7 linked regions of the Homo sapiens genome follow. The protein of the gene in region 4 interacts with the protein of the main gene of each other region in a pairwise test. Each region holds a gene or a part of one and is shown on either strand. Other genes may lie near its edges.

The links.
Region 1: the proteins of CPSF7 (region 4) and RBM10 interact in binary tests that used the Homo sapiens proteins (3 or more experiments, as listed by UniProt).
Region 2: the proteins of CPSF7 (region 4) and SMAD3 interact in binary tests that used the Homo sapiens proteins (3 or more experiments, as listed by UniProt).
Region 3: the proteins of CPSF7 (region 4) and U2AF2 interact in binary tests that used the Homo sapiens proteins (3 or more experiments, as listed by UniProt).
Region 5: the proteins of CPSF7 (region 4) and NCK2 interact in binary tests that used the Homo sapiens proteins (3 or more experiments, as listed by UniProt).
Region 6: the proteins of CPSF7 (region 4) and DRC4 interact in binary tests that used the Homo sapiens proteins (3 or more experiments, as listed by UniProt).
Region 7: the proteins of CPSF7 (region 4) and GUCD1 interact in binary tests that used the Homo sapiens proteins (3 or more experiments, as listed by UniProt).

Annotation. Positions count from the first base shown.
Region 1 is NC_000023.11:47,175,495-47,180,100, reverse strand, and holds part of RBM10 (RNA-binding protein 10), read right to left. Parts: intron 3,602-4,606; coding exon 3,515-3,601; intron 999-3,514; coding exon 938-998; intron 783-937; coding exon 606-782; intron 556-605; exon of another isoform or gene 320-555; intron 222-319; coding exon 61-221; intron 1-60. UniProt on the Homo sapiens protein: Binds to ssRNA containing the consensus sequence 5'-AGGUAA-3'. May be involved in post-transcriptional processing, most probably in mRNA splicing. Binds to RNA homopolymers, with a preference for poly(G) and poly(U) and little for poly(A).
Region 2 is NC_000015.10:67,159,602-67,163,101, forward strand, and holds part of SMAD3 (mothers against decapentaplegic homolog 3), read left to right. Parts: intron 1-3,500. UniProt on the Homo sapiens protein: Receptor-regulated SMAD (R-SMAD) that is an intracellular signal transducer and transcriptional modulator activated by TGF-beta (transforming growth factor) and activin type 1 receptor kinases.
Region 3 is NC_000019.10:55,668,132-55,672,737, reverse strand, and holds part of U2AF2 (splicing factor U2AF 65 kDa subunit), read right to left. Parts: intron 4,232-4,606; coding exon 4,152-4,231; intron 4,069-4,151; coding exon 3,946-4,068; intron 3,656-3,945; coding exon 3,557-3,655; intron 3,295-3,556; coding exon 3,046-3,294; intron 1-3,045. UniProt on the Homo sapiens protein: Plays a role in pre-mRNA splicing and 3'-end processing. By recruiting PRPF19 and the PRP19C/Prp19 complex/NTC/Nineteen complex to the RNA polymerase II C-terminal domain (CTD), and thereby pre-mRNA, may couple transcription to splicing.
Region 4 is NC_000011.10:61,405,545-61,410,150, forward strand, and holds part of CPSF7 (cleavage and polyadenylation specificity factor subunit 7), read right to left. Parts: intron 1-4,606.
Region 5 is NC_000002.12:105,855,979-105,860,584, forward strand, and holds part of NCK2 (cytoplasmic protein NCK2), read left to right. Parts: intron 1-4,606. UniProt on the Homo sapiens protein: Adapter protein which associates with tyrosine-phosphorylated growth factor receptors or their cellular substrates. Maintains low levels of EIF2S1 phosphorylation by promoting its dephosphorylation by PP1.
Region 6 is NC_000016.10:90,032,098-90,036,703, reverse strand, and holds part of DRC4 (dynein regulatory complex subunit 4), read right to left. Parts: intron 3,987-4,606; coding exon 3,780-3,986; intron 1,072-3,779; coding exon 1,017-1,071; intron 324-1,016; coding exon 118-323; intron 1-117. UniProt on the Homo sapiens protein: Component of the nexin-dynein regulatory complex (N-DRC), a key regulator of ciliary/flagellar motility which maintains the alignment and integrity of the distal axoneme and regulates microtubule sliding in motile axonemes.
Region 7 is NC_000022.11:24,539,410-24,543,116, reverse strand, and holds the end of GUCD1 (protein GUCD1), read left to right. Parts: intron 1-16; coding exon of another isoform or gene 17-19; coding exon 20-111; 3' UTR 112-2,679; downstream 2,680-3,707.

The sequences.
Region 1 (4,606 bases), on a different chromosome or scaffold from region 4:
TCGTCTCCACCCCGGGGGCCGGGACCCTGGCTGCCCGGCCCCCAACTGTGCCGCCCTCACCACGATGGTGGAGAGCTGGATGAAGGCAAAGCCGCGGTTCAGTTGGGTCTGCTTGTCCTTTATGACGCGCACGTTGGAGGAGGACAGCACCGCGTAGGGTGCCAGGGCCCCCAGGATGGAATCCATGGTGCTGTGTGGGTTCAGGTTGCGCAAAATGATGGCTGTGGGAAGGGGCCCAATGTTAGAGGACACCCCTGGCACTCTTGCCAGCCCTGCCCTTCAATGCCCCCACTGCTCCCTTTCCTCTGCCCCCACTCACTCCGTGCCTTTGCAACTGCCGCTTCCCTCACTGCTTCCTCCAGGATCAACTCTGCTTGGCGGTCCAGGTGCCAGCCTGGCTGCCTGTCTGCTGAGAACCTTCCCGACACACCCCCAAAGTCAGGTGGGATGTTGCCACTCCCCCTGTTCTCCCTACATCAAATGTCTATCCCCGCACCAAGTGGAGATTCCATGAGGATGAGGTCCTGCTCACTGCCATTTCTCTGGTCTTGGTGAGCCCAGCCCGACACCCTAGGGCACAGAGGAAGAAGGAACAACTGACTCACTGTCATTGGCGTTCTCTGAGCTTGGCTCCGAGCCCTGTGACAGGGCTTGGGAGGCCAGGACTCCCTGGGCCTGGTAGGGCTGCGGCAGGGGAAGCAGGCCCTGGCTCAGCTCCCGGCCACCCAGTGGCAGTGTCTGCTGATCCAGCCTCGTGCCGAGGGGCAGCTTCTGCTCTGCCTCTGTCAGGGGCAGTGGGAGACAGGCTGGTGATAAGGGGAAGGCTCCACGACTGGTCACCCTCCTCCCTATACCAAGCCCTGAGCACAGACCCCTCACCCTTCCCTTCTCCCCAACCGCTCCGCCCTGGAGAGCACGAGAGGTAGGTGGGCCTCACCTGACTTGGGCACGCCACATTTGAAGCACTTCTCTCGGCGTTTGAAGTTCTGGACGCCACACTGTGAGGCACAGGCCAGGCCGTCAGAGGGAGCAGGGATTTCCCACTGCACCCTCCAAACTTGGATGAAGAGATCTCCCAGGGACCCCGCAGTGCCCCAGGAAGGAAAGCCCCTAGGCAATGGTGGCAGGTGCCTTCTGAACCTTCTGATGTTGTTCTCAGTACTGTGCATCTTCCCTTTCCAGACTCTCATTTGTCCTCTGTGCCAACCCACTCAGCTCAGGAATAAACAACTCCCCCATTTGGTACAACAACTCCCTCCTCTCCTTCCTCTGCCTTCTTAAGGCCACCAACTCCCAGGACTGTTCCCCGCCTCAGGTATTCAATCCCTTTATTAGGTTCCTCTCCCTGAAACTTGCTCCTCTATTCAGAAACCTTTCAGTGTTTCAGCCCTAGAAGTCAGTAGCCAGACCCGCACCCCTCCTCTTAGCTCTAGGACTGGGTTGGATCCTGCTACGCTTGAGAAATTTTCCTTGAATGTTCCAGCATCTGGAGACCCAGCTTCTACCACACTCCATCTCTGTTCCAGACTCAGGTACTAAGCACCACTCCTGGGCCAGGCCCTGCTGCACATGGCCAGAACATGGTCTCTGCCCTCATGGCCTAATAGCACAGGGGCAGATGCAGCATGAAGAGGGGCAGGTCGGTCTGCATGGACCATCCAGCAGGGGCTCGGGGAGGGAAATGGGCTGGGGGTGGGGTGCCATTTACTCGGCAGGGACAGTCCCTGCACAGAAGCAGGGAGGTTTGACCTGGGATGCCCAGAAGTTTCATTTTGTTAAGCCTTGCTGGGGAGGGATTGTTATCGGAGGGAACAATGGACTTTCCGAAACTGGTGTGGGAGAGTAAGGGGAGAAGCAAAAGCCAAGGCCGGGGAAGGAAGCCAGTTAGGTAATGGAGGATCTTATGCTTAAGCTGAGCTGGGGCTGGTTAAGCAGAGGAGGAGAGGCGTGGGTAGTCAGAGGTGGTTTTGAGGAATGTTCCAGGTGAGGGCGTGGGAGAAAGAGGACAAGAGGCCAGCATACCAGAGAGGGCTCCACAGTGAGTGGGTGAGAGCGTGACGATTGGCATGAGCAGCGGGAATGGCGAGGGAGGGAAGGTGGCGTTTCTGTGATGGAAGTGACAGGACCTGGTGGCCAACAGGATGCAGGGGAGGGGAAGGAGTTCAAGAGAATTCCCTGGTTTTGGGCTGGGCGTGGTGGCTCACGCCTGTAATCCCAGCACTTTGGGAGGCTGAGGCGTGAGGACTGCTTGAGCTCAGGAGTTCAAGACCAGCCTGGCAAACATGACGAAACCCTGTCTCTACCAAAAAAAATAAAAATAAAAAGGCAAAAATTAGTGGGTGTGGTGGCATGCGCCTGTGGTCCCAGCTACTCTGGAGGCTGATGGCTTGAGCGCTGGAGACAGAGGTTGCAGTGAGCCCAGATTGCTGCACTCCAGCCTGGGCGACAGAGCCAGATCCTGTCTCAAAAAAAAAAAAAAGAGAATTCCCTGGTTTTGAGGCTATCTGGAAACACAGGAAGGAGTTCCACTGTCACTTTGTCTTTATCTCTCCAGAAATGTTAAGCACCAATCCTCTGATGGGACTTTTTTTTTTAAAACAGATGCACCACTCTCCCTGACTAGGCAGAGTACTTCCTGGGGAGAGGGTTGGGGCCTCTACAAACTGTGGAATCACAATGCTGGCCCCAGGGCAGACCTGAAGCCACTGTGGCATCCAAGTCCCTGTGATCAGGAGCAAGGCACAGGGCACAGCTAAAGGTTCACCCATGGTTCCACCTCTCTGAGCCTCAGCTTCCCCTCAGGGAAGACAGAGGTGACTACAAAACCACAGCCTCCAGTTTCAGGTTTGACTTGGCCTGGTCAGAGTGGCCTTCAGGCTTGAGCTACCTGCTATGGGCTCTCAGAACGCTCTGTGCTTTTCTTTCATGATTACAGTTAACAATTCGACTGTGTTAAATGTGGGCCAGGCACTGTTCTGAGTGTTACTCTCTCATTAACACAGCTGAATCCTCCCAACCACCTTTTGGGAGAGGTGTCATTAATATTCACATTTTAGAGATGGGGAAAGTGAGGCAAAGAGAGGCTAAGCACCTTGGCCAAAATCAAGGCCGATCTGGGATAGTCTCATTTCAGCCAGTCTGGCTCTGAAGCCCACATTCTCCACACCACCACTTCAAGTCTACACTGTCACTAATTCATCATCCACGTATATATTTCCTTAAAGTCTACTGGAACTCCAGGCAAGACTGCATTTTAGGAGGACAGAGCCTGCACCAAGTGAACGCTCACTACACATTTGTATATGGCTGGCTAGGAATGGTGACTACTCAAGCTGAGCTAGCAAGGGATAGAGAATGAGAGAGAGAGAGAGAGAGAGAGAGAGAGACAGAGGGAGAGGAGAGATTGGGGGAGGGGGAGAGATGGAGGGAGAAAGAGCGGGAGAGGAAGGGAGAGATCGCCGCCACTGCTGTTGCTGTCTCTGTCCATGACAACTGCTGCCCACCGCCCCTGTACCTTATTGCACAGCCAGTCCTCATTGATCTTGGGCTTGGGGTCACTGTAGTGCATCGACACCTTCTGGCCCAGGATGTTGAGGGAGTGCTGCGGGAAAAAGCAGAGCACAGTGAGGTCCAGGCAGCAGTGCCCCACGCACCGTTTCAGCATAGGAGAAGAGAGTGAGCGAGCCCTTCAGCTGGATGGATGAGGGACAGGGAACGGAGGGAGGTCGGAGAGCGGATGGAGGGAAGAAGGGAGGTAGGGAGGGAAAGCGCCACAGCTCTCGGGCGCAGCTGTTTGCTGCTCTGCCGGGCACACGCACGCACACATGTGAACACACACCACCAGGCACACAGTGTTCGGCTGACCGACGCTTGCCGGACAGTGGGGAGAAACCCCCACTCGGCCCTGACACTGCCAGGCCACACCCAGGGCCAGGACTACACAGGCTACACTTGGGGGGTGAGGGGAGACAGGGAGGGGGAGGGAGAGGGGAGAAAAAGAGAAAGAGAGCGCAGGTGCGCTAGTGCTGGAGAAGGGGAAAAAGAAAGAGCCATTTCGAACAGATGGAAGTTTCTGCCATGAGGCCGTCTTCCCATGGATGGCTGGGTCCTGGGCCCATGGCACTAGCCTACCAACCCCGAGGAGACGGCCCCAGGGCTGCCTCTGCCGGGATCCCCCATTCTACCACCTCTGCCCCTTCCTCCCCTGAAACTGCTCTCCAGTGCCCTACACCAGGGATCTGGGCAGGGGTGGGTGACCAGGCAGATCTTTGGGTCTCGGAGGTCCCAAAGCTGCTGAGTTGGGATCCCGTGCCAGGCTTGGGGGACAGGCTCCCCCCAGGGCTGACTGTGCACAGGTCCTTGCCGAGAAGACAGAGCTGCCTGAGGTGGTGCCTCCTGCGAGTGTGGAGATGTGATAGGAAGGGTAGGGGCGGCGAAGTGAGGCCAGGGTGTCGATAAAACTATCATACTCGACGGGAACTTGAGATCAACAGAGCAGTGCTGTCCCCTTGCATGAAAATCAAAGGGCCAAATTCACATGCAGGGATGGGGCTGACAAAATGAGTCTTGCTAGTGACTGTGCCAATAGCTAAGCTCCTCACTGGCA
Region 2 (3,500 bases), on a different chromosome or scaffold from region 4:
TACATAACCTTTACCCCCAAAAAAGTTTCCAAGTGCACCTTGGTAATTGCTCCCTCCAATCCCTACTCCCTCCCTGTAACTCCCTCTGTCCCCAGGCAATGACTGATCCCTGCTTTCTGTCACTAGATTAAGATTAGTGTGCCTTTTACTTTAGTTTAAATTACCTTATAATTTTACACGAACAGAATCATGCCTGGCTTCTTTCACGCAGCATCATTAATTTAGATTCATTCATAGCGTTGCATGTATCAGTAGTTGATCCTTTTTTGTTACTGAGTTGTATTTCTTTGTATGGATATGTTATGGCTCATTCATCTGTTAATACATGTGGAGTAGTTTTCAATTTGGGGCTATTACATTCATGCACAAGTCTTTGGACATAGGCTTTTATTTCTCTTGGGTAAATACTTTGAAGTGGAATGGTGGATCATATGGTAGGCTTATGGTTTTTTAGCTTTTTAAGAAACTTCCAAATGTTTGAGGGATGAATATCCCAATTACCCAGATTTGATCATTACACATTGTATGCTTGTATCAAAATATCGCAAGTACCCTATAAATATGTATAGCTACTGTGTATCCCCCAAAATAAAATATTTTAGAAAGGAACTTCCAAGCTGTTTTCCAAAATAGTTGTACCATTTTACATTTGCACCAGCAGTGGAAGGGAGTTCCAGTTGTTCCACATCCTTGCCAATACATGGCATGATCAGGCTTTTTAATTGTAGCCATTCTAATAAGTATGTAGTCCTATCTCATTGTAGTTTTAATTTGTGCTTCTCTAATGATCAACATTGTCAAGCATCTTTTCATATGCTTGTTGTCTTCATATCTTTCTGGGTAGTGTCTGTTCAAATCATGTATCTCTTTTTTAAAAGATTGAATTGTTGGCTGGGCGCAGTGGCTCACGCCTGTAATCCCAGTACTTTGGGAGGCCGAGGCAGGCGGATCACGAGGTCAGGAGTTCGAGACCATCCTGGTTAACACATGAAACCCCGTCTCTACTAAAAATACGAAAAATTAGCCGGGCGCGGTGCCAGGCGCCTGTAGTCCCAGTTGCTCGGGAGGCTGAGGCAGGAGAATGGCGTGACCCCAGGAGGTGGAGCTTGCAGTAAGCCAAGGTTGTGCCACTGCACTCCAGCCTGGGCGACAGAGCGAGACTCCATCTCAAAAAAAAAAAAAAAAAAAAAAAAAAAAAAAAAAAAAAAAAAGAAGATTGAATTGTTAATATTGAGTTTTCAGAGTTCTAGAAACAGGTCTATTATCAAATATACGCTTTGCAAATATTTTCTCTTAGTTAGTGCTTGCCTTTTTATTCCTTTAACAGTGTCTTTCAAAGACCAGAGGCTTAAATCTTGATGCGGTCTGATTTTTTTTTTATTATTATTAAGTGCTTTTTGGTGTGGTATCTGAGAAATCATTGTCTATCCCAAAAAGTCACAAAGATTTTCTCCTGTTTTCTTCTAGACATTTTAGAGTTTAAGTTTCACTTCAGTTTGTTTTTGTATAGGGTTACAATGTGTAGTTTGAAGATTATCTTTTTTACATATCCAGTTGTTACATCACCATTTGTTGAAGACTGTCCTTGCTCCACTAAATTGTCTTTGGACCTTTGTTGAAGCCAGTCGTCCATATATATGTAACTATTTCTGGACTCTGTTAGGTTCCATTGATCCGTTTGTCAGTCCTTGTGCCATTACCATACTGCCTTGATTATTGTAGCTCCCTTGTTTTTAAAAGTTTAATTAATATCCAAGTGATTCATGTATGATTAATATTACTACTAAGGCAAGAGGGCCACCCACTTCTATCACCTAGATGGAGCTTACCTCCACAGCCCCATTCTCCCCCGCTGCTGGCATGAGCTTTTCTCCAAGGCCTTCTCTTGCAGAGGAGGCTATGATGTCCAGCTGGCCCTTTTTTGGGAGTTTTGTCAAACACCGAAGAGCAAATACGGCCACTTCCCTAATCTGTGGGCACCCAGTGGCTTTGCAGGAGAAGGAGAACAGCTGAATAATTCTCTATTCCCACTCACCACTTCCCACTCTCCCTTTTACTCCTGTTCAACCTCCAGCTCACCCTACTTATCCAGGGCTGGGTTTGGGGAGTATCTGCTGTGATAGAGAATAATAACGCTAATTTGTGGGTGTTTATGAAGCACTTTCAAATGGAAACCAAGCTTCAGGAGGTCGGGGGGCAGAATACCCCATTTTATAGATGAGAAAACTGAGTGTCCTAGGAAGCTCATGAGCTGCCCAGTGTCTCCCAGCTAGGAGAGTAGAACCCTCCTTTACCCCAGGTCTTATGGCTCCACATCCGCCAGTCCTCCTTTTATACCTCAGGGACGAGTCCCAGGCTGTCTTCTCGATCTGCCTGGTAATTACTGTTTTTCAGCTGTAGGGCTTCCTTGTTCTGGGGCCCCAAGGGAGGAAGGTAATTACATCCTTCAAGATGCCCTTAGTCAGCAGCTCCAGGTCAGTTCCTGTGACCAAGCCCAGCTATGACCTTTGTCTGTCCTTTCCCCTTCCCAGGCCAGTGGCTTGGAGAGTGTGATTGGATCCCTCTGTTTCTCTCTTTGGTTGGTGCTGTTGGTGGCATCTGGCCAGCCCTTCCTTCACAGAGTGCCCATGAATTCTCTGTATTCAGGCAAATGGGTGCCCTCGGTCATAAGAAGGCACAGAGGGAAAGCTTGCAAATGTCTCACTGCCAGCCCTGCCAGCTATTAGAAAAATTATGGCACTGACTGGCAGGGTCCTAGGATGGGCCTCCTTGAAGAAAAAGCAGTCCTGCCTCTTAATAGGGTACCTGTGACTCATGAGCATCCATCTCATCTGCTCCCCACTTCTATCCCTGCTACCCGCAATCTGTTGGTCACACGTAGCCAGAGTTCCACAGGGCCTGTCTCTTTCACACGTATGCACAGCCCACTTACACATCTCAGAGGCTACATACTGCTTTTAGAAAACAGGAGAAGCCTTTATCATGGCCTTTGGGGCCCTGCAGAGTACCCCTGCCTGCCTCCCCGGCCTCGTCTCAAGCCAGCTCTCTCTCATGATCCCCTCTCCAGTCCTTCTGGCCTTCATTCTGTTCTTCCGACCTCACCATGTTTTCCACTTTCCACAGGGCCTTTGTGTGTGCCTTTCCCTCTGCTTGTACTGCCCTTCTCCCGCACCCCTTTGCCTGGTTAGTTCTTACTTACCCTTTAGGCCTTCAGGTCAACCATCACCTCCTCTGAGATGCCCTGTCCAGTCCTTCAGCAAAGTGGGGTGCCATGGTCATACACTCTTGGGGTTCCTTGTTATTTTCGTTCAGGACACTTTCATTGTGTGTAATTGTAGGTTTCTGTGATGATGATGATGATGATGATGATGATGATGATGATGATGATTTGAAACGGAGTCTTGCTCTGTCGCCCAGGCTGGAGTGCAGTGGCACAATCTTGGCTCACTGCAACCTCCCCCTCCCAGGTTCAAGTGATTCTCCTGCCTCAGCCTCCTGAG
Region 3 (4,606 bases), on a different chromosome or scaffold from region 4:
AAAAAAAATTCTTGAGATAGAAAAATTTGAACATGGAATAGGCACTAAGGAATTTCGCTAATCTAATCATGCTATTGTGGTTTTGTTAAAAAAACAAAACAATTTTTTAAGGTTATCTGGTTAGAGCAGTGGTTGTCAACTGGAGGAGGGGGGGTGTCCCCAGGGAACACTGAGCAATCTTTGGAGATGCTTTTGGGTGTCTCAGCAGGGAGTAGTGCTCTTGCATCCGGTGGGTGGAGGCTGGGGATACATCTCAATATCCTACAACGCACAGCAAAGGCCCCCACAGAGAAGTTATCTGACCCAAAATGTTAATTGAGAAATAATAGAAATATACTTAAGGATCTCAGGTGAAATAAACCTGATAAGCCTTAAAATAATCCAGCAAAGAAAAAGGAGGGGGGAGAAATAAGCTGAATATGAAAATTAAGAATGACAAAATATTGGTAACTTGAAGCCAGATGAAGGAACACCAAAATATTAGCACATATACTATGATAAAAACGTATCACTATCATAGTCCCTACTTTTAAGTATATTTGAAAAGACATGTAACAAAAAATTTAAGAATAAAACAATACAATGCAGTAATTTTTTTTTTTTTTTTCTGAGACCATGTCTTGCTCTGTCACCCAGGCTGGAGTGCAGTGGCGTAATCTTGGCTCACTGCAACCTCCGCCTCCCGGGTTCAAGTAATTCTCCTGCCTCAGACTCCTGAGTAGCTGGGATTACAGGCACGCACCGCCACCATGCCTGGCTAATTTTTGTATTTTTTAGTAGAGATGGGGTTTCACCACATTGGCCAGGCTGGTCTCCAACTCCTGACCTCATGATCCGCCCGTCTCGGCCTCCCAAAGTGCTGGGATTACAGGCGTGAGCCACCTCGCCGGGCCGCCGATGCAATAAATTTAATATGCAAAACAGGTCAGCTGATCCCAAAGGCCAGGGTCTCTCCATTCCTTCTTCCCACAAATGTTTCCTCAGCCCCTGCTTGAGCCAAGCTCCATCCCAGCACCAGAGGGCAGCCCTGAGCAGCCCTGACATACCAGCTCAAGGGAAGGGGACTCTGGAGGGCAGTGGGCAGGAGCTGCAGTGAGAGGAGATGCCGTTGGCCTTCCCCATGCCCCTTTTCTAAGATGCTCCTTCCACCTCTCCAGCCGCCCTCCCCAACCCTGCTCTCCCTGGGCAAACCACTCCGACATCCCAAGCAGGGCCTCGACAGACACCTGAGTGTCCATCAGCCCTCATGCTGGGAACACAGACCTGTCCAGCTAATTTTTCCTTGACATCTCTACTGGGTGTCTCAGAAACCGCAAAGCCAGCTAGCTGCCCCCCACCCCCCGCTCACCCCCGACAAGGTGCTCATCACCCCTGCATCTCACCTGCCATCCCCACCATCAGAGCTGCCACTAAGCAGCTCATAGGCCTTCTCCTCCCCTCCCCACAAACCCACACCCATCACCAAAGTCTGGACACTTCCCAGGCACAAGTCTCCCTCAAATCCATCAACTTCTCTCCATCCCCTGCTACTACTTTAAATCAGATCACCATCTTTCACCAGATTATTGCGGGAGACCTCATTCATTTTCCCAACTGCAGCCACAATCACCTCAAAAATGCCACCACCACAGTCCTGTTTTCTCCTTCAAAAGGCCACCAACTCCAGGGGAAAGCCGAGCTGCTTCCATGACATAAGAAGGCCCCCACGCCCGATCTGGCCCTGCAGAGCCAGCCTTGGTCCTGACAAACCTGGCTGTGGCATCGCTTTGGCAAGACCAACCCTGCCAGCTCCCGGCAAGCCCTCCTGTCCACAGCACCCTCTCTGCCCTCCTGCTGATCCACATCCTGCCCTGCAGGGCTCAGCAGGGAAGCCAGGGCCAGGGGAAGTACCTGCTGTGCCTCCGCACCCACCCCCAACCTCACTATGTGGGGTCATTTCCATCTGCCAGGCGTGACCACCCTGGAGGCCTCTCAGTATTGCTTCCCTCCCATCTGGCTCAAAATAAGCGGTCGTTCCAAGACCCAGGCAGCCCTCCAAGGCCTGCCACTCAGCCCTGGCCCCACCACCTCGCTCACTCACCTGCTCACTGCCACCTCTTGACCTTGACCACCCTGAACGAACAGTACACCCAGGAATGCGGCCCCTGCCCCGACTCAATACGGCATGCAGGTCCTCTAACAGCTGCACGGACAGCAGGGTGCAGGGACAGCAGGGTGCACGGGACAGCAGGGTGCACGGACAGCAGGGTGCACGGACAGCAGGGTGCACGGGACAGCAGGGTGCACGGGACAGCAGGGTGCACGGACAGCAGGGACCTCTATTCACAACTGAACCCTCAGCGTCTAGATCAGAGCCTGGTACGATGGGAATTCCATACATACACCCAGCAAGGGGATCAAAGAGCAGGTCACACGCCCTCACCACCACCATCTCATGAGGCAGAGAGGTGAGGTGATTACACCTGTCACGGCGCTGGAGGTGACAGGACTTAGCAGAGTCTGAAATCAGACTCCGAGAACCTGAAACCTGCCAGTGTGAGCCACCCCCGCTGTGCCTGTCTCCTTCCACGATGGGGCTCAGGGGCTACGGGGAGGGCTCAGGGTGAGCACAGACACAGCTTCGGCAGGGTGCCTGGCACACAGGAGACACCAGCAGGTGTCTCGGGACTGTTCCCGGCACTCTTCCCCACTCCACAGACCAGGCAAAACCATTTGCACAAGCCAGGCCATATAAGGGGGAGCAGGGCCAAGTTCTACAGCGATACAGAGCTACATTCCCCAACTACTGTCTCGCCTGCAGGTCTTGGGCCCCCACAGGGCCACAAACCCCTCAGGGTCACCAACATCTCCCATGGCCCGGCCTGAGGGCGGCACTCAGTGATGGCATACACCTATACGCACGCGCTGCGAGAGGAGAGAGAGAGGAAGAAAGAGCGCGCGGAGAAGAGGAGGGGGAGAGGGTGAGGGAGCAAGAGAGGAAGAAAGAGGGCGCGGAGAAGAGGAGGGGCAGAGGGTGAGAGAGCACTGAGCCCGAGGCCTCCTGACCTTTCCGCAGCCGGGCACCTCGACGCCGTCCACAGGCCGGGGGATCTCGATGGACTTGACAAGCCCGTACTTGCTGCACTCGTCCCGCACGTCCTCCACGATCTCCTCATACTCCTCGTCGTCCAGCAGCTCCTCAGGCAGCACCATGTTCATGAGGCACAGGACCTCAGTCGGGTGGCCGCCCATCTGCACCTGGGAGCTCATCAAGCCCGGCACTTGCAGGGTCACAGGCGTCTGATTGATGGTGCTCTGTGGGGCCAGGGGAGGCAGCGGCGTCACAGGGGGCCCAGACCCAGTCTCCCTCTGCTCAAGCCTAGGCCCCTCACATGCCCCCCCAGGGGAAAGGCCATCTCTCCACTTCCAACACCTAAAGCCCGACTCCCCAACACTGCACTGAATGCCCCCCAAATGCCTTCCCATGAAAGCTGGGAGAAAGATCAGGAACACTTGTCCCCTACTAGCCAGCCCCTCCCACCCCCAGGGTCCCTCAAGCCAATGGAAGATGACGTGCCGGGGGGCTCACCAGCGTGGCATTCTTGGCTCCCACACTCGCCCTCTGGACCAGCAGCTTCTTATCCCCCAGCTGCATGCCGTTCAGCCCCGCAATGGCCTGTGTTTGGAGGATGAGGGGTCGGGGGGTGCGGGGAGAGGTGGGGTCAGGGACCAGGAGCCCGACACCTACCCCCAAGCCGGGGCATTGGTGGGGGAAGAGGGGAAGGCAAAGGGGATTAAGAGCCTGGAAAAAGCCAACGCCATGGGACAGGGACGAGCCCACACACAGGGCACTGCCTCAGGTTGGCCGCCTCCCGCCCCGTCCCCTGAGGAGGGGAGACCATGGCTTGGCAACAGCGCAGGGCAGGGAAGGACAGACGCGGCAGCGGCCAGCGACCGGGGACTCACCTGATCCGTGACGTTGATGTCCACGTACTCACAGAAGGCGTAGCCCTTGGAGAGCCCCGTGGCACTGTCCTTGACCAGGTTGAAGGCCTTGAGGGGCCCAAAGGATGTCAGCAGCTCTTTGACCTGCAGTAGCCGAGAGTCCATCAGGGCTGGGATGAGGTGGGGCGGGGTGGGGGGACGGGTCTGGAGGGAGGCAGGGAAGTTACCTGGTCATCGTTCAGGTAGTTGGGTAAGCCCCCGATGAACAGCTTGTGGGCAGAGTCGGGGACCACAGTGGACACAACCCCTATGGGTAGAGAAGAGGAGGACTTCAATTCCAGTACCAGGTTATCTCCCAAAACCTGGACAGTCTACGGCGAGCTCCTCAATTGCCAAAGAGAACACTTCCTGCCTGATCTGACGAGGGAGGGGTCGCCACGTGCCCACCCCACCCCAGCCTTATCTGACCAGTGAGGGTCCTGGGCAGTGGCACACAGAGGCTCCTCGGGGAGAACGCACCATGTCTCCCAAATCTGCCCAGCCTCAGGGGAACCTCAAACTAGAACATCCTCCAGAACGCTCCAAAGGCACAAAGTTCACACCCACATCTGCTACCTGCTGCTGTGGAATGCTGGCAGGTCACCTGGGCTCGGGACCTACTGGTGAGTCACAACACACCCCA
Region 4 (4,606 bases):
CCTACTATACTCAGCACCTGTTCCAATGCTGCAATACCCATCTGCGGGTGGTGGTATGGTCAGTCTGAGCATATTAAACAGAATTAATAGCCAAAGGGAAAATGAGGAATTAGAATTTCTCCTAATGCCCAAACTGGCAACACAGCCTACGCACAAATGTTTACCTTTTATATAACTACTTCTGTAAAGTGGCCTTATAAAACCTAGAGGAGACATCTACGTCCTCCCTGATCCTTGTACACACCGAAATGACACTATTTTCAGCTTGGGTCCTCAGAATCTATATGGCCTAAGCCTTCCTGGCCTGTCTAAACACCTACGCAGGCTGGTATTTGTCCCATTTTCTCTAAGGGAAAACTGAAGCCCTCAGTGCACTCAATTACATACCATTAGGGCTTCTGAATCTTTGAATTCGATCCAAATTGAAGAGAAAGCTCAGTTTTCAATGGATAACGAGGACAGGAATGACGTGAGAATGACTATATTTCAAGTAGGATAATGTCCTAAAATAATGAGATAACTGACATAGTTGAGAACTACAAAAAGTTGAAGACACAGGTTGCAGAGGATAACTTGTACACCAAGAGAAGCAAGCCATAGCACTGAATTCTTAAATCTCCATGGCTACATTTTGGTGCCAATGTTGGAATGCAGGCAGAAATCAGAGATTCCTTCAAGTGGGCCAATTAGCCTTCAGGCCCCAGAACTGGGTCTTACGCCGAGAAAAGATGGACAAAGAAGGCTACTGTTCTATTGCTGCCTCTGGACAAAATGTACCTTTCACTCTCAGGGAACAGCTGTCATCATAGAATATAAATATGATTCATTTCTAACTAAAAGGTTGCTATAAATGAGGACCATGTACCATCTTCCCAACATGAAACTTCCTAAGCCATAACTTGGTCACTACAGATGGAATTAAGAGTCCTTAGGGTGAGAATGTAAGAAATTGACATTCTTGGGGTGCCTGATTCAGTTCTTTCAGACTATTATTCAGATGCAATAACCACTATATCAAACGGGTGACCAGGAAAAGTGAGGAAGTAGAAAACCTGCCTCAGAGTTAATTTTTCCCATCTTGTCATGGGCCTACACAAGTCAAATGACTGTTTTCTAGGCAATATTGTTACAGCATTTTCAAAGTTACCAAAAGAGAGTTATCCTCATAATGGGAGAAATAGTCTCATCTTATTTTATTTTTATTACTATTTTTTTTGAGACAGGGTCTTGCTCTATTGCCCAGGCTGGAGTGCAGTGGCACAAACATGGCTCACTGCAGCCTCTATCTCCCGGGCTCAAGTGATCCTCCCACCTAAGTGCCCCCAAGTAGCTGGGACTCCTCCTGCCTCAGCACCCCCAAGTAGCTGGGACTACAGGAGCACATCACCATGCCCAGCTAGTTTTGTATCTCTGGTAGAGACGAGTGTTTTGCCATGTTCCTCAGGCTGGTCCCTGAGCTCAAGCGATCTGCCCCTCTCGGCCTCCCAAAGTGTTGAAGTTACAGGCATGAGCCACTGTGCCTGGCCCCATTTTATAAGTGGAAGAAATAATGCAAAGTGACAGCTAAAGACTCAGGTTGAGATGTTTAATTCTCAAACTACTGCTGGATCAGTGGATCTCGCTGGTAATTTCCCTGTCATAAGGCTGTCAGGAGCAAAGCCATCAGGAATGGTGACATGCATTTATGTTCTAACTACTAAACTGAATGCAGCCCCAAAGACGACAGTGCATGCTCTGCACAGGTCAATCATCACCTTCCTGTTCACTCTTATCCCAGTCAGCTCCAAAAGACATACACTGTAGCCTACATGTGCTTTTCAACCCACAAGTAACACTAGCAACTGTGCAGACTCAAACAAGAAAAGGGAGTTAGGACTGGACCAAGACCAACTCTAATGCCTGCCCTCATGCCCACCTGAGACTGAATTAGGCCAAAGTTGTTTGTGGTCTCCATCTACAATAGCGTCTGCTTTTCCAGAGGATACATGGGCATCTCCCCAAACTCAACCTGTTGCAAAATCTAGAAAGAAGTACCTGGAGCCCACAGCCTAACTGTTGATTCTACATGAGTTAACCTAGATTTCAATGATGTTAAGCACTCTAGGATTTTGTGGAATAAATGAGTGGCTAACAACAGAGAACAGAGACAAAAAATATTAGTAATTTTTCATCTTTCCACTTACTTGTTTGGGAGAAGATAAAAACAATTCCTGGCTATAAATCTATTTAAGCTAATGGCCAAAGAACAAGACAGAGGGCAGTAGCCAAACCTAAAAGGAGTATTTTGGTTTTTAGTAGGTTGTCACTGGGCAAAATACTGCTAATTTTCCAACTATTTACATTCCAGCTACTGCTCATGAACTATAGGGGCTCACAGGTGGTGAGTTTCTTTGTCCTTCTTCATCCAGATATCGCCATCCCAAAGACACCAAAAAGAACTACTATTCTTTCCCCTCACCTTCCTTTTCAATTACCATTACTTTAGATCAAGCAGGCAAATAATCAAGGACATCTTTTTTTTTTTTTTTTTGAGACAGAGTCTCACTCTGTCGCCCAGGCTGGAGTACAGTGGCGCGATCTCGGCTCACTGCAAGCTCTGCCTCCCGGGTTCATGCCATTCTCCTGCCTCAGCCTCCTGAGTAGCTGGGACTACAGGCACCTGCCACCATGCCCGGCTAATTTTTTTGTGTGTATTTTTAGTAGAGATGGGGTTTCACCGTGTTAGCCAGGATGGTCTCGGTCGGGATAGAGACGGGGTTTCACCATGTTAGCCAGGACGGTCTCAATCTCCTGACCTCGTGATCCACCCACCTTGGCCTCCCAAAGTGCTGGGATTTCAGGTGTGAGCCACCGTGCTCGGCCAAGGACATCTTCCTAATGTACTTGATGTGAGACAGAGAAATGGGAAGTCCTAGAGACTTATAAATCTGCAACCACAAAATTAAGAAAGGACCCTGAAGTTACCTGGGTCACGCAGTAGCCTCCAAGAACTACAGACAGACCCCTAGCCACTCTGGCCTATTTTAAAGATTTCCATAGAAGCAGAGACAACACCTGCTCCTATATGCTTATATAATAGAAACAATCTTTCCAGAAGTTTTCCTTCAGTTGGGATTGCTAAGCTGGTAGGATGCAACCTAAAGACACAGCACCCCCTCTGACTCCCTACCAATATGGAGCCTGTCTAAGAATGAAAGCAACAGAGAAAAGCAGAGCTGAGAGATGCAGATAAAGTCTGGATGACACAGCCAGAGCCCCTGGATCCAACCAATCTTAACTGAACTTCTCCATTACTTAAGAGTTTTTATCCCAACCTTCCTGCTTTCATTTTGCTTCAAAAGAAAATTACAGCCAGTCGCAGTGGCTTCATGCCCATAATCCCACAGCACATTGGGAGGCTGAGGCAGGGGGATCACTTGAGGCCAGGAGTTCAAGACCAGCCTGGGCAACAAAGCAAGACTCTACAAAAAATTTAAAAATTAGCCCTCAGGAGGCTGAGGCAGGAGGATCACCTGAGCCCAGGAGGTTGATGTTACAGAGCCATGATGGTGCCTCATGACAGTGCACTCCAGCCTGGGTGACAGAGTGAGACAATGTGTCTATTAAAAAAACAAAAACAAAAACAAAACAAAACAAAACAAAAAAACAGCCGGGTGCGGTGGCTCACGCCTGTAATCCCAGCACTTTGGGAGGCCGAGTCAGGTGGATCACGAGGTCAGGAGTTCAAGACCAGCCTGGCCGAGATGATGAAACCCCGTCTCTACTGAAAATACAAAAATTAGCCGGGCGTGGTGGTGGGCGCTTGTAATCCCAGCTACTCGGGAGGCTGAGGCAGAGAATTGCTTGAACCCGGGAGGTGGAGTTTGCAGTGAGCCGAGATTGCGCCACTGCACTCCAGCCTGGGCAAGAGTGAGACTCTGTCTCAAAACAAAACAAAACAAAAAACACAACAACAAAATAAACAACCTTGTCACTAAGTCTTTTCCAAAAGCAAAAAACCCTTCCGTTGAAGTTAATTATCCACCACAAAGCCTCTAAACCTGTTAAAGATAATTTTTCAGATCAGCTTTCTCCTCTCTGACTAAAGCATATTAATTTTCAAAATCTTTTAAATAAACCGTTTTTTTTTTTTTAAAGAGATGGGGTCTCGGCCAGGCATGGTGGCTCACGCCTGTAATCCTAGCACTTTGGGAGGCCAAGGTGGGCTGATCACGAAGTCAGGAGTTCAAGGCCAACCTGGCCAGTATGGTAAAGCCCCGCCTCTACTAAAAACAGAAAAATTAGCGGGCGTGGTGACGCGCGCCTGTAGCCCCAGCTGCTGGGGAGGCTGAGGCAGAATAGCTTGAACCCGGGAAGTGGGGGTTGCAGTGAGCTGAGATCATGCCACTATACTCCAGCGTGGGCGGCAAAGTGAGGCTCTGTCTCAAAAAAAAAAAGATAGGGTTTCACTATGTTGCTCAGGCTGGTCTCAAACTCCTGCTTAAGTGATCCTCTAGCCTCTGCCTCCCAAATTACTGAAGTGATGGGATTACAGGCATGAGGCACCCACCCGCCCCTCCTCCCTACCTTTTTTCAGACAAGGTCTCACTGTCGCTCAGGCCAGAGT
Region 5 (4,606 bases), on a different chromosome or scaffold from region 4:
CACCCACCACCACATCCGGCTAATTTTTTGTATTTTTAGTAGAGATGGGGTTTCACTGTGTTAGCCAGGATGATCTCGATCTCTTGACCTTGTGATCCGCCCACCTTGGCCTCCCAAAGTGCTGGGATTACAGGCGTGAGCCACCGTGCCCGGCTCCCCATGTGCCTCTTGTTTTCCCAGGTGTTGTCAGGTTATGGGCAGTGCCCTCCTGGAGTTACACAAAGTTAACAGTATCCAGTCTTGCCTTTACATGCACACGGAACTGACTTACAGTATTTACTGCCTCAGATTACCTGAGAAAATAATTGCGAGGACTTTTTTGAAGAATGACTCATCTGAGCTGACATTTAAAACGTTGTTACCTTCTTATGAGTATAATGTTGTCTGTATCCAAGACTGCAGGTTATCACTTAAGGGTTTGCTAGTGAAATGAGTTAATATTATCACCTGTGTCACATTTACTTGGGGTTTTAAAAAAATTTCTAACAAGAGGATTTGTTTTCTTTTGGGGAATGGAGAATGAGGAATACGTAGGAAAACTGAAAGTAAAATTATACACCAAATGTGGTGGGTGTTGCAAAATGTTCATCTTTTCTTTTCTGCCATGTTGAAAAGTCTAAACTCCCTCTGCAAAATCATCGAAAGCCTTCATGTATTAGGTAGTATTTTTGTGTATGGATTAGGTTCTTACCATGATTTGGAGAGATAAGTGAGACATGGAACTTCGTATGAATCATACCAGCTCACTGGCCATCGTAGATTCTCAGCCTGATGGAGAAATTTCATTTTTGATTAGCAATATGCTCCTTCTCCACTGAGCTGCCTCCCTTTCATCTTTTCTTCCCCCACATAAGCATGCCACTTGAAAGAAACACTGTTTTATGCTTATAACTCTTAATTAACTGTGGTTACCAAAAAAAGAGGGTAGCATGAATAGAGAAAAACTTGAAGGTTGTCCTGAGCTTTATTTTTCCAATTTCTACCTTTCACCAAAGTACCATCTTTTTAGTGATGCCAAACATTGTTACGTTGTTGACTTGTTGTGTGTCTTCTTTTTTTTTTTTTTTTTTTGTATTTACAAGATTCTAGTAAAGCATGAAGTGCTTAGAGACTTGTAGGAAGTAGAACAAGGCAAGGCGAGTTCTCTGGGTGACCTGGAAATTCCCTTGAAAACCTTGTCAGTTTTCTTCCTCAGTTTTCTAGAAGCAGAAAAGACAAAGCCACAAATTAAAACTATGAACCACATCTTCCGCCCAGCATGCTTAGTTTTTTCATGAGCTGTGATCGGTTCAGCCAATGCGTGTACTCCCAGGCTCTCAGACTGAGCCAGCCGCCCGTCCTGGAGCCGGCACTGGGCCCGCGCCCGTCCCCGACAGATGGCCATCCAGCCCTGCTGGAGCGCAGCGTCGGTTCGAGTAGGCCAATCCCATTTTTGGCGAAAACAGATTGTTAGAAAGCTCTTCCTTAAATAGAATCAGATTTTTACATTTCTTTAACTTTCTTCCTTCCTTTGGCTCTTATTCTGCCCTCTAGGCCTGTGCTGAGTAGGTCAGATCCTCTTCTGTAGAGTGTCAGCCCTCCCATAGGCTTGGTCTCAGTTCAGGCAAGCAGTTCTTGGGAAACATTCCTGTTAAGCATTAGCTATTGTAAAAATACAGAAAAAATGATGTTCTGAACCCCTTTATTGAGTATAGCAGTTGATCTTCATAGCCAAAAGGCCCTTGGGGATCAGTATCCCCGTCATGAGGGAGAAATATCCCCATGGTTAGTATATATTTTTTGTTTTGATCTCTTTATCATGCTCACCTGGAGGTTTTTGTTGGACAAAGGGATGTTGTTATCTCAGCATGAGTTTTCCCTTGCCCTGTTGAGCTGCATCCAGTGGAAGAGGAGGCACCCCCGATCAGGTCTCACCATCATGCAGTAACTTCTGTGCACTTCTGTGCAAAGCTTATAGATGTGGCGTTGCCAAGAAGGAAAGTGAGAATGCTTTCCATAGCCCCTCCTGCCTCTCATTAGTTGCATTTGTGTGTGTTTGTGTTTTGTTTTTTGTTCTTTGTTTTTTGGGGTTTTTTTTTTGTTTTTTTTTTTGCTAAAAAGATAGGAGCCAAAGTGTTCATGGCTTCCTATTACTGTTGGTGATGATAATTAAACAGGTATACCATCAGAATGACAGTATGACTTTAGGCCAATTGTGCAGCCTGCAGAAATTATCCCTGCTGTGTATTAGGCATGGAAACAGCATCAAAAGTACACCACATGTATACTGACCACGGTTTGTTTTTGTTTTTGTTTTTTGAGACAGGGCCTCACTCTGTTGCCTAGGCTGGAGTGCAGTGGCACAATCCCTGCTTACTGTAGTATTGACCTCAGGTGATCCTCCCACCTTAGCCTCCCGAGTATCTGGGACTACGGGCATGCACTACCACACCCAGCTATTTTGTATTTTTTATAGAGACAGGATTTTGCCATGTTGCCTGGGCTGATCTTTAACTCCTGGGATCAATCTAGTAACTCATGGCACCACCCACATTTGCCATTTTTACTGCTTTGGGAGTCCACCTAATTCATAAATCCATGGTAAGATTCCTTCCTGCTTTGGAATAAAATGGCACCGGCCTCCCCAGCAAAACCACAGTGTTGTGTATTGCATCTCCAACTGTAGATTACCCTAACTCTGTGTAGTTCTCTCCTGCTTTCTTGTACTCATTTGCTGTCCTGAAGTTGTTAATAAACTTAATTTTGTCACATACAGTACTTTGTTAAGAGTAGCTTGAGGAAAGACGTGAGAACCTTTGACAAAAAGCTCTCTCATGAAAGTATTTACCTGCTTTCTTTCTCTGCAATAATTTAAAATTGATAAAAGCAACCTGAGCTCTTATTTTCACATGGGCAAAACATTTGTATACTGGATCTCTTCTCATATTCAGCTTATGATCATGAATAGTCAGAACTTTGCCACAGATAACAGGGAACAATGATCAAGAACTGTTTCTGCTGGCAGAATCCAGTTGATGTTTTTGAAGGGCTCAGACTGCACAGCTCTGAGCTCAGTGGAGAGCGGTCCTGGGCTGAGGTCTGGCCTTAATACTGCAACTCCACTTAGAAAATTGTGCAGGCGAGGTGTTGTAAAAGCACTATGCTACATCTTTTGAGATGGGGAAGCTGCTCCCAGGGAGGTATTTTTCAAAGATTTTCCCTCAAGCTACTGAAGAGCAGTTTTTTGTTACTACTTTATGACACCAGCTGGAGCCTTGCAAAGCCCCAAAGGTTAATTCTCTTTTCGGTGGTTAACATAGGCTTAAGGGCTGACTCACATTACCCAAAAAGTTACGGTTCCATTTACAACCTGATCATATCCTCAGGAGGGTTTGTTCACAGGCCCACCTGCCCGTGGCTCACCCTGCCACCCTACCTACCTGGGACTTCTGCATCCAGCGTCACCTGCCCCAGGGCTCACTCCTCAGCATTCCTCCCAACAGGACCACACCTAGGCCTAGCGTGGTTAGAAACTTGCATGATCAGCCCCAGAACTCCTGCCTCTGATCCAACCCAGACCTGGGAGCACAGAGGCTACTGAGAGGGCTCCCTAATGCTAACTGTGAAACAGCCTTTGCACTGGTTTGAGCTGATGCTTTTGGATGGGGACAGGGTGGCTGGCACCCGTGGGTGAAATTGACAGGGTTCTGAGAGGCATATCCCTGCTAGGATCAACTTTGGAATTGAACTGATCAAAGTCACAAGGAGTACAGCTGTAGGATTGTTACGTAAGATCCAAAAGCAGTGAAAAGCAACACTTGGTGTTAGAATTAAGATTACAGTACTCTGGAGGGAGGGAGGCAGAGCCTCAGTGAAGGTACAGGGGCTTCTGTCTTGGTGATCTGCCCTGGGGTCTGTGGGGCAGGCTCACGGGCACACCTGCCTTGGAGGAGTTTGCAAAGCTGACTGCTTATTTCTGTTGGTATTATACTTTCGTTTTTAAGAAATTTATTTTAGAAAAATGTCAGTTCAAAACAACAATCAGGGCTGGGCACGATGGTTTATGCCTGTAATCCCAGTGCTTTGGGAGGCTGAGGTAGAAGGATCAGTTGAGGCCACGAATTTGAGACCAGCCTGGGGAACATAGCAAGACTTCATCTCTACAAAAAAATTTTTTAAAAAATAGAGCATGGTGTCATGTGCCTGTGGTCCCAGCTACTCAAGAGGCTCAGTTGGGAGGACTGCTTGAGTCCAGAAGTTGGAGGCTGCAGTGAGCAGTGATTGCAACACTGCACTCCAGCCTGGGCCACAGAGTGAGACCCTGTCTCAAAAAATGAGCCATAAAAAAACAAAAACAACCATCAGAACAACAAAATGTCAGAACTTTTAGAGTTCCTGCATCCACAAGGGGACCCTACCCACCAAGTGCCAGCCTCCGTCCCAGAGGTCAGGATGGACAGAGCCCCTGCTCTGGTGTAGTGTGTATGTTCCACACAGGCTCAGGGACCTGCTAAGCCGTAGGCGTCTCAGAATGAGGAGGGGCATCGCATTGCTGGAGTGAAGTTCACAGCGGGGCATGGAGGATGAGCGAGCATGTAGTCAGAACCGCATGGGGAGGCCTTACTGG
Region 6 (4,606 bases), on a different chromosome or scaffold from region 4:
TATAAAAAGTACTGGGTGTGTTGGGGTGGAGAGCTGGGGTCTGGATCCCCAGGACTCTGCAGCCCACATTCTAGGACAGGCAGAGTGTGCCTCCCCAGCCCAGCCCACGCACAGCACCTTGAGGGAGTTGATGAGGGCCAGGTTGTTGAGGGTGATGTCGTTGTAGTAGTTCTTAATGTCGGTGAAGGCCTCCTCGTGGCGCTGCATCAGCGTGTGGATCTGGCCATTCTTCCTCTCCTCCACTTCGTGGAGCTCAGTCTTTCTCCGCAAGTCGAGTTCGTCCCTCAGCATCTTCATCTTCTTATCATACTTGGCCTCAATTTCTGAAAGGCAGCAGCAAACAGCAGCTTAGCAGAGGAAGACGTGGTGCCCCTACGGCTACAGAACATGGAGCCTGTAAACGGGCCCAAAACGCCCACTGTGGTCAGAACAGCCTTGCAGGCAAAAGCTCTGCAAGAGAAGAACAAAGGGGTTTAGACTGAGTTTTTCTGCTGATGCTCACACTCAGCACACACACCACTGTCGGCCTGCCTTTGCCAGTGACAGGCATTGCTAATCGCTCCCTGCACTGGGGGTGCCAACAGCTGAATGTCAGCTGACCCCAGTGAGCAGTAACCGAGGCCTGTGTGGCCACCCAGCCACAATCAGCCTTTATTAGTAAAACACAGAGACTTCTGAAATTGGAGCCTTCTCAGACCAGGAGCCATGGAGAAGACTATTTTAAGAAGGCTGCCCACGGCACTGAATAGCTACCACCTGCTGATAACTACTGATTTTAGCTAGGAGTGGGAATGTGTGTGGTAATCACAGCCTCCCAAACTCACATGGAAATAGGTTGTTCTGGGATTCTGAGTGGGTCCACTGGCCTTGGAAACTTCCATGTTCTTTCTCTTGCATGCCTTGGCTGTTTTAATCCAGTTTTTGCTCCCTGAGTTAACAAGCTCTGGAGGTAAATTCCTCTCTGATGGGGCGGGGGTGTCTCTGGCACCTACACAATGAGCACACGGGAAACTGACCTCGAACTTGCCTCTCAAAATCATTCCGCATCCTGGTGATCTCCTCGGTGTGTTTCTGCACAGGGAGAAGCGGCCATTACTACACAGCCGGACACAGAGGGAAGCCCGCTCCCTTCAGGCTGACCCTGTTCCTCATGGTTTTGGTCACCTCCATATTCCCTAACTCACCTCCCTCAACTAAAGTCACCTCTAAGCTTGAGAGAGAACATGAACAGACGTCGTGAGCACTGAACCCGCTTGGTTCCATCGCCAAACCATCCCACAGCCTGAAGAGCAGCAGCCACATCCACACAGAGCTGTGGGATCTTTCCAGGTGCCGTGTGTAGCTTCCAACCTGCTGCACTGCTGCCTGAAGCAGCATATTAAAAGGATTCATTCCTGTCATCCCAGCACGCTGGAGGCCAAGGCAGGAGGATCACTTGAGGTCAAGAGTTCAAGGGCAGCCTAAGCAACATAGCAAGATCTTCTACAGAAAATTTAAAGATTGCCGGGCACAGTGGCTCACGCCTGTAATCCCAGCACTTTGGGAGGCCGAGCTGGACAGACCACCTGAGGTCGGGAGTTTAAGACCAGCCTGACCAACATGGAGAAACCCCGTCTCTACTAAAAATACAAAATTAGCCGGGCATGGTGGCACATGCCTGTAATCCCAGCTAGTCGAGAGGCTGAGGCAGGAGAATAGCTTGAACCCGGGAGGCAGAGGTTGTGGTGAACTGAGATTGTGCCACTGCACTCCAGCCTGGGCAACAAGAGCAAAACTCCATCTCAAAAAAAAAAAAAAAAAAAAAAAAAAAAGATTAGGTGGGTGTGGTGGCTCATATCTATAGTTCCAGCTACTTGGGAGGCTAAGGCAGAAGGATCACTTGAGACTAGAAGTTCGAGGCTGCAGTGAGCTATGATTGTACCATTGCACTGCAGCCCGGGAGACAGAGTGAGACCTCATCTCTAAAAATAAATAAATATATAGTTTTAATGAACAATTATTATATATTTAAATAAACATTATATATTTAAAATTTGCATAAAAAAATAAATTATTTTTAAAGCAGTAATTTTTCTTTTTTTTGAGACAGACTCTCACACTGTCGCCCAGGCTGGAGTGCAGTGGCACAATCTCGGCTCACCGCAACCTCCGTCTCCCAGGTTCAAGTGATTCTTCTGCCTCAGCGTCCCGAGTAGCTGGGATTATAGGTGTGCGCCACCACGCCCGGCTAATTTTTGTATTTTTAGTAGAGACGGGGTTTCACCACGTTGGTCAGGCTGGTCTCAAACTCCTGACCTCGTGATACACCCTCCTCGGCCTCCCAAAGTGCTGGGATTACAGGCGTGAGCCACCGCACCCGGCCTAAAGCCATATTTTTACCCAACAGGAAACTCTGATTATGTAACAATATCATATCCAGGACCTGGGTTAAGACCAGCTAATTCTGGAGGGCTCAAGACTTCGGCACTCTCAGGCTTTGCTGCGAAGTCAGCAACGTCACCAAGTTTCTTCCAGATTCAGTGGAGGCTGGACTGCTTCCAGGCGTGAGGCAAATGTGTTCAGAAAGTCTCCTCAACCCAGCAGCCAGGAAGAACCTTAGTGAGACACATCTCTCCTCTGCCCAAGTTCTCAGAGGGCAACAGACTCCACCAGGGTCAAAGTCCCAGTCCCCACCACGGCTTTCGAGGCGGACGAGCTCTGACCCGTCTCCAGTCCCCACCACGGCTTTCGAGGCGGACAAGCTCTGACCCTCTCCCACAGTCTCCTCCTGGTCACTCTGAGCTTTCCCACTGGCCCATCCCGTCTCCCAGCCGGTCAACTGCTTGTACAAAACCGCACCCCACCTCTCCCCACTTCGATCCTTCTATGGCACTCTTCCCCACCAGATACTCTGTTGTATCTGGCACGTTTATTTTGTCTTCCAACTCACCTGTTGTCTCTCCTTTCTAGACCAACAGCCCCAGTCGGGCAGGCGTTTTGTCAGAGATCAGATCAGGACCTAGCAGCTAATGGACACTCAGCAAATGATCTCTTTCCTTTTTGTTTTGTCTCACTCTGTCACCTAGGCTGGAATGCAGTGGCACAATCCTAGCTCACCACAGCCTTGACTTCCTGAGCTCAAGGGATCCTCCCGCCTCAGCCTCCCAAGTAGCTGAAACTATCGGCATGTGCCACTACACCAGCTAATGTTTTCTTTTAAATTTTTTAGACATGGGGTTCAACTATTTCACCCAAGCTAGTCTCAAACTATTGGCCTCAACCACTTCTCCCACCTGACCCTCCCAAGTGCTGGGATTTTGGGTGTGAGCCACTGAACCAGGTGCACAGATGAATTTTAATGGTGCCCTGGAAACCCCCAGCCTCAAAAGTAAAAATCAGACCAGCTTGTGTGACAAACTGTCACAGTGCCCAGGAGTCAACACACTGGATATTTTAATGGTTGGTTTGCATTCTACTAAATGCATATGATGCTATTCCCTAGGAAAAGTCTCTGGGTGTCAGGTGTCAGCAGCACATGAAAGATCCTAAGCTGGATTTTTTCTCTTCGGTGACGTCAATTTTTTGCTCAGGTCTGAGACAGAATTGTGTACTTGGTCCCAAAATGGGGTTTGTTTGGATGCATGCTTTAAAAAATTTTTTTTCAACAAATTGCAAAAATGCAGAAAGTCTTATGCAGAAATATGAATTCCCAGTTGCTGTTGAATAAACAGGAGTTCATGCAGCACTAGGCTTGCCGTCCCAACAACCTGTCAGCCTCCAGGTGCCCCCGCCACACCTACCAGCCGCAGGTTCTTCACCACCACCTCACTGGCCAGCTCCTGCTCCTTGAGCTCCACCTTCAGTGCCCGCATGTCCTTGCGCAGCACACTCTCCTGTATGCGGTGCTCTTTCTGTGCCAGCTTCATGACTACAGTGCCCTCAGCCTTCATCTCTGTCAGGTTGTTCTGGTGCTCATATAGCAGGTGCTTCACTTTCTGCTTGTACACCTGCAGGGCAATGGGAGTACCATCTGCTCACCTGCACCACACCTCCTCACCTTTCCGTACCTGTGCACACCTGGTCACCCATAGCACACCTGTACCACACCTCCTCACCTGTCCATACCTGTACACACCTGGTCACCTGTACCACACCTCCTTACCTGTCCATCCATACCTGTACACACCTGGTCACCCATACCACACCTGCACCACACCTCCTCACCTGTCCGTACCCGTACACACCTGGTCACCTGTACCACACCTCCTCACCTGTCCATACCTGTACACACCTGGTCACCCATACCACACCTGTACCACACCTCCTCACCTGTCCGTACCCGTACACACCTGGTCACCTGTACCACACCTCCTCACCTGTACATACCTGTACACTCCTGCTCACCCACACCACACCTGTACCACACCTCCTCACCTGTCCATACCTGTACACACCTGGTCACCTGTACCACACCTCCTCACTTGTACATTCCTGTATACACCTGATCACCTGCACCGTACCTGTAACACACCTCACCTGTACATACCTGTACCCCCCTGCTCACCTGCACCACACCTGTACCACACCTTCTCACCTGTCCATACCTGTACACACCTGGTCACCTGTA
Region 7 (3,707 bases), on a different chromosome or scaffold from region 4:
CCTTCCCCACCCCCAGCAGGAATGTGCAGCACCAGCATCAGTAACTTTGAGGAGGCCAGAACCAGCTATGGCACAGATGAGGACATCCTCTTTGTCTACTTGGACAGCTGACAGCAGGAGCCTGGTGCGCCTAGGCCCTCGGACCCCATCCCCACCCCAGCCGGGCCCGCTCAGGATGCCCTGGCCCAGGCTTGGGGCTGCTGGGGTTGGAATGTGGAACTGCAGCCTCAGCCCATCTGGCAGAGTCCCAGGAACTCGGAGACTGGCACAGCTGCTTTGTCTGCCAGTGCCGTGTGTTGTCATGTCACTCACCCCAAGCACCTGCTGGCTGCTGGAAGCATACCCCAAGACCCCAAGCCTTGACTCCAGCTGCGCCCACAGGAAGTCCAGTCCCGACAGTGCCCTTGTTGCCTTTGAGCCAGATCCATGGCAATGGTCTCCCCACAGACCGCAGGACTGAGCCTGGAGAGAGAAGTTGCTTGACGGATGCCACTTGTCAGGACAGTATGTGAGTGTCTGGAGACAGCATAGCTGACCCCAATCCCCCAGGGCTGAGGACCCCTCCAGGCCCCTCTCTCCTGGAAGTGCTGCATATGCCCCTGTGCCCAGTGGTTGATGATACCACCACCACCTGCCTACCCATGGGCCCAAGTTTCTGTGGCTCATTACAGGGCATCTGACCCCTGCCACCCAGCATAGACACACCTCACAGCTGCCCTGCCATGCAGAGCCCTGGCCGCTGGAGACTCTTAAAGCCCCCACAGCCCTCCAGGTCCTCCAGCTCTGTCAGATGGAGGGCTCTCGGGCCTAGATCCCACTGGTAGGCCTCGTGGCTGGCAGCAGTGCTCTGGGAATAAACAGCTGCCCTAGCCCCAGAGGGATCCCTGCACCCAGGAGGCCTCCTGACACCAGCCAAAATCCTGACAGCAGGGTCTGCCCTCTTGAGTGTGGGGAGCCCCTAGTCCTTTAAGGTTGGCTGCTAAGGCCTGTGCTCCAAAGCAACGGGCTGGGGCAGCCTGCAGCTGCCCACCCAACCTGGTCTTCACACCAGATTGCACAGGATACTGGGTCTTGTCTATCTTGATGGAGAAGAGGGGTTCCTGCCCAGGATCTTACAACACAGCAAGTAGCATAGAGCTCTTTCCTTCCTCTTTTTTGGGGAGGTTGGGGTCAGGGGTTGTTTCTTTGAGATTTAAGTTTTCATTTTTGAGGGGTAATCACCTTCAAGTAAAACAGTAATAGCAAGAGTGAAGGTACTTTGGAACCACTAACACCTCTGCACAGGGCAGTTAGCCAGCTCAAGTTCTTTTTCAGAGAAAGGGACTTGGCCAGTGGTTTAAGTACCTGCCCCTTCACCTCTCAGACGAGGCAGCTGACGAGGCAGCTGGCCCAGTCTTGGGAGTCTGCTCAGGACAGTGGTGGAGCTGGGTCTTGAACCCCAGTCTGCACCTAAAAAACTAAAGGAAATGGATTTTTTTTTTTTTTTTTGAGACGGAGACTCACTCTGTTGCCCAGACTGGAGTGCAGTGGCACGATCTTGGCTTACTACAACCTCCGCCTCCTGGGTTCAAGCGATCCTCCTGCCTCAGCCCCCCACTAGCTGGGACTACAGGCACATGCCACCATGCCCGGCTAATTTTTTTGTATTTTTAGTAGAGACCAGGCTTCGCCATGTTGGCCAGGCTGGTCTCGAACCCCTGAGCTCAGGTGATCCACCTGCCTCGGCCTCCCAAAGTGGGAAATGGGTCATTTTCAAAGGGGCAACAGTGATACCATCCCTGCACTCCTGGGTCCTGCTCTTCCAATGCCCAAGGCATGGCATGGTGGCAGCTGTGCCCCCGCCCATTGCTTTGGAGCACAGATGACTCTGGGGGCAGAGGTGGGCTCTGTTTAGGAGGGCAGTGAGACCACCCAGCCAAATTGCTTCTCAACCCTAGACAAAGCCTTTGGCCAAGAGGGAGGTGCTGTTAGTTGGGCAGCCCTTCTGGGTTTCAGAGACCGGTGTTGGCTCTAGACTGGTCTCATCTCCATTGCCTTAATGCCAGGTGGCCCAGGAGTACCCATGCACAGCAGCTGTGGGGTGTGGGCATCTTCAGGTGGTGTTCTGGTAAAATTGTTAGAATAGCTGTATGAAGGAAACCAGTGGGAGGAAATGAAGTTTTCAGGATGGTGGGATGTGATTTAGACAGTGCACATGCTGTTAGGGCTGTCACTAGGGAGTGGCCTTCATGGAGGGTGGTAACAGCACCTCAGTCCAGCCAAAATGTTTAGAAACACTCAGTCTCTGGTCCCAGAGGATGGCTTCTCAGGGCATGCCACAAGTTAAAGGTCACCTTCCTGAAAGATGAATGAGAAAGCTGCCCATTCTCAAGACTCATCTGCCTAGGGAGGGTCACAGAGGCAGGATGTAAGACACACTGTGTTGCATTCTTGCACAAGTCATGAAAATGGAGCCAGAGAGCCTGGACATCAGGGACTTTTGCCCACAGCACATGACACCGACAGCTGCCCAGCCTGTTCACATGCTGGGGACCAGCACAGCACCTGAAGCCATGTGGGACAGTTGGGCTTTGTTCATTCTAGCCACGGGGATGAAAGGGATCTTTTGCATTGCAGAGATTTTATATATATTTTGTTTGTAATGAGCCATTCTCAATAAACATTATTCTCACTGCAAAATGGTGGTAGCCCCTGGCTGGCCTTTATGAAGCTGTGTTGATCTGCAGAATTCCTGTCCCTTCTCAAGTTCTCAGCATGAGCACATGGGAACCCAGGTCCTTGTCTTGCCATACCCAGTTTAGCTGGGACTGGAATCCTGTTTTCTGTTTTCTAGGGCCATATCCATCCCGTTCAGGCCTGGATGCTTGTGCCTGTCCTGGACAGGCAGTACTAGAGGTAGAAGGGCCTCGGGGCTCAGCTCAAGTGAACTGCAACAAATGCAACTACAGGAGACACAACAGAATGAGGGAGATGTTGAAGCAGGAGAGACGAAAGTGGGTGGGATGGTGAGTGCTGGGTGGAGCTGGCTGCTCAGAGCATGCAGAGTTGGGGTTGAGGTAGACAGACCAAGAGTGCAGTAGTGCGATCTCGGCTCACTCCAACCTCCACCTCCTGGGTTGAAGCAATTCTCCTGCCTCAGTCTCCTGAGTAGCTGGGATTACAGGCACACACGACCACGCCCGGCTAATTTTTGTATTCTTAGTAGACACAGGTTTTACCATGATGTTGGCCAGGCTGCTCTCGAACTCCCAGCCTCAAGTGATCTGCCTGCCTCAGTCTCCCAAAGTGCTGGGATTACAGGCATGAGCCACTGTGCCTGGCCAATGTCATCACTTTTAAAGAAGCACTTCTGTTCCTTCCCATCCTCCCTCAAACACATCATCTTGTCTGTCTCCACTGCTATAGCCCCAGTATCTGACACCTAGTAGATGTTCAGTAAATGTGAGTGAACGGATAGTAGGCTAAAACAATACCTGTTTCAGCAGCTTTCCTGTACTTTTCAGAACTAAAAGTAATCATTAAAGGGGAGGCAGAAGGCCGGGCACGGTGGCTCATGCCTGTAATCCCAGCACTTTGGGAGGCCAAGGCGGGCAGATCACCTGAGGTTGGGAGTTCGTGACCAGCCTGACCAACATGGAGAAACCCTATCTCTACTAAAAATACAAAATTAGCTGGGCATGGTGGCACATGCCTGTAATCCCAGCTAC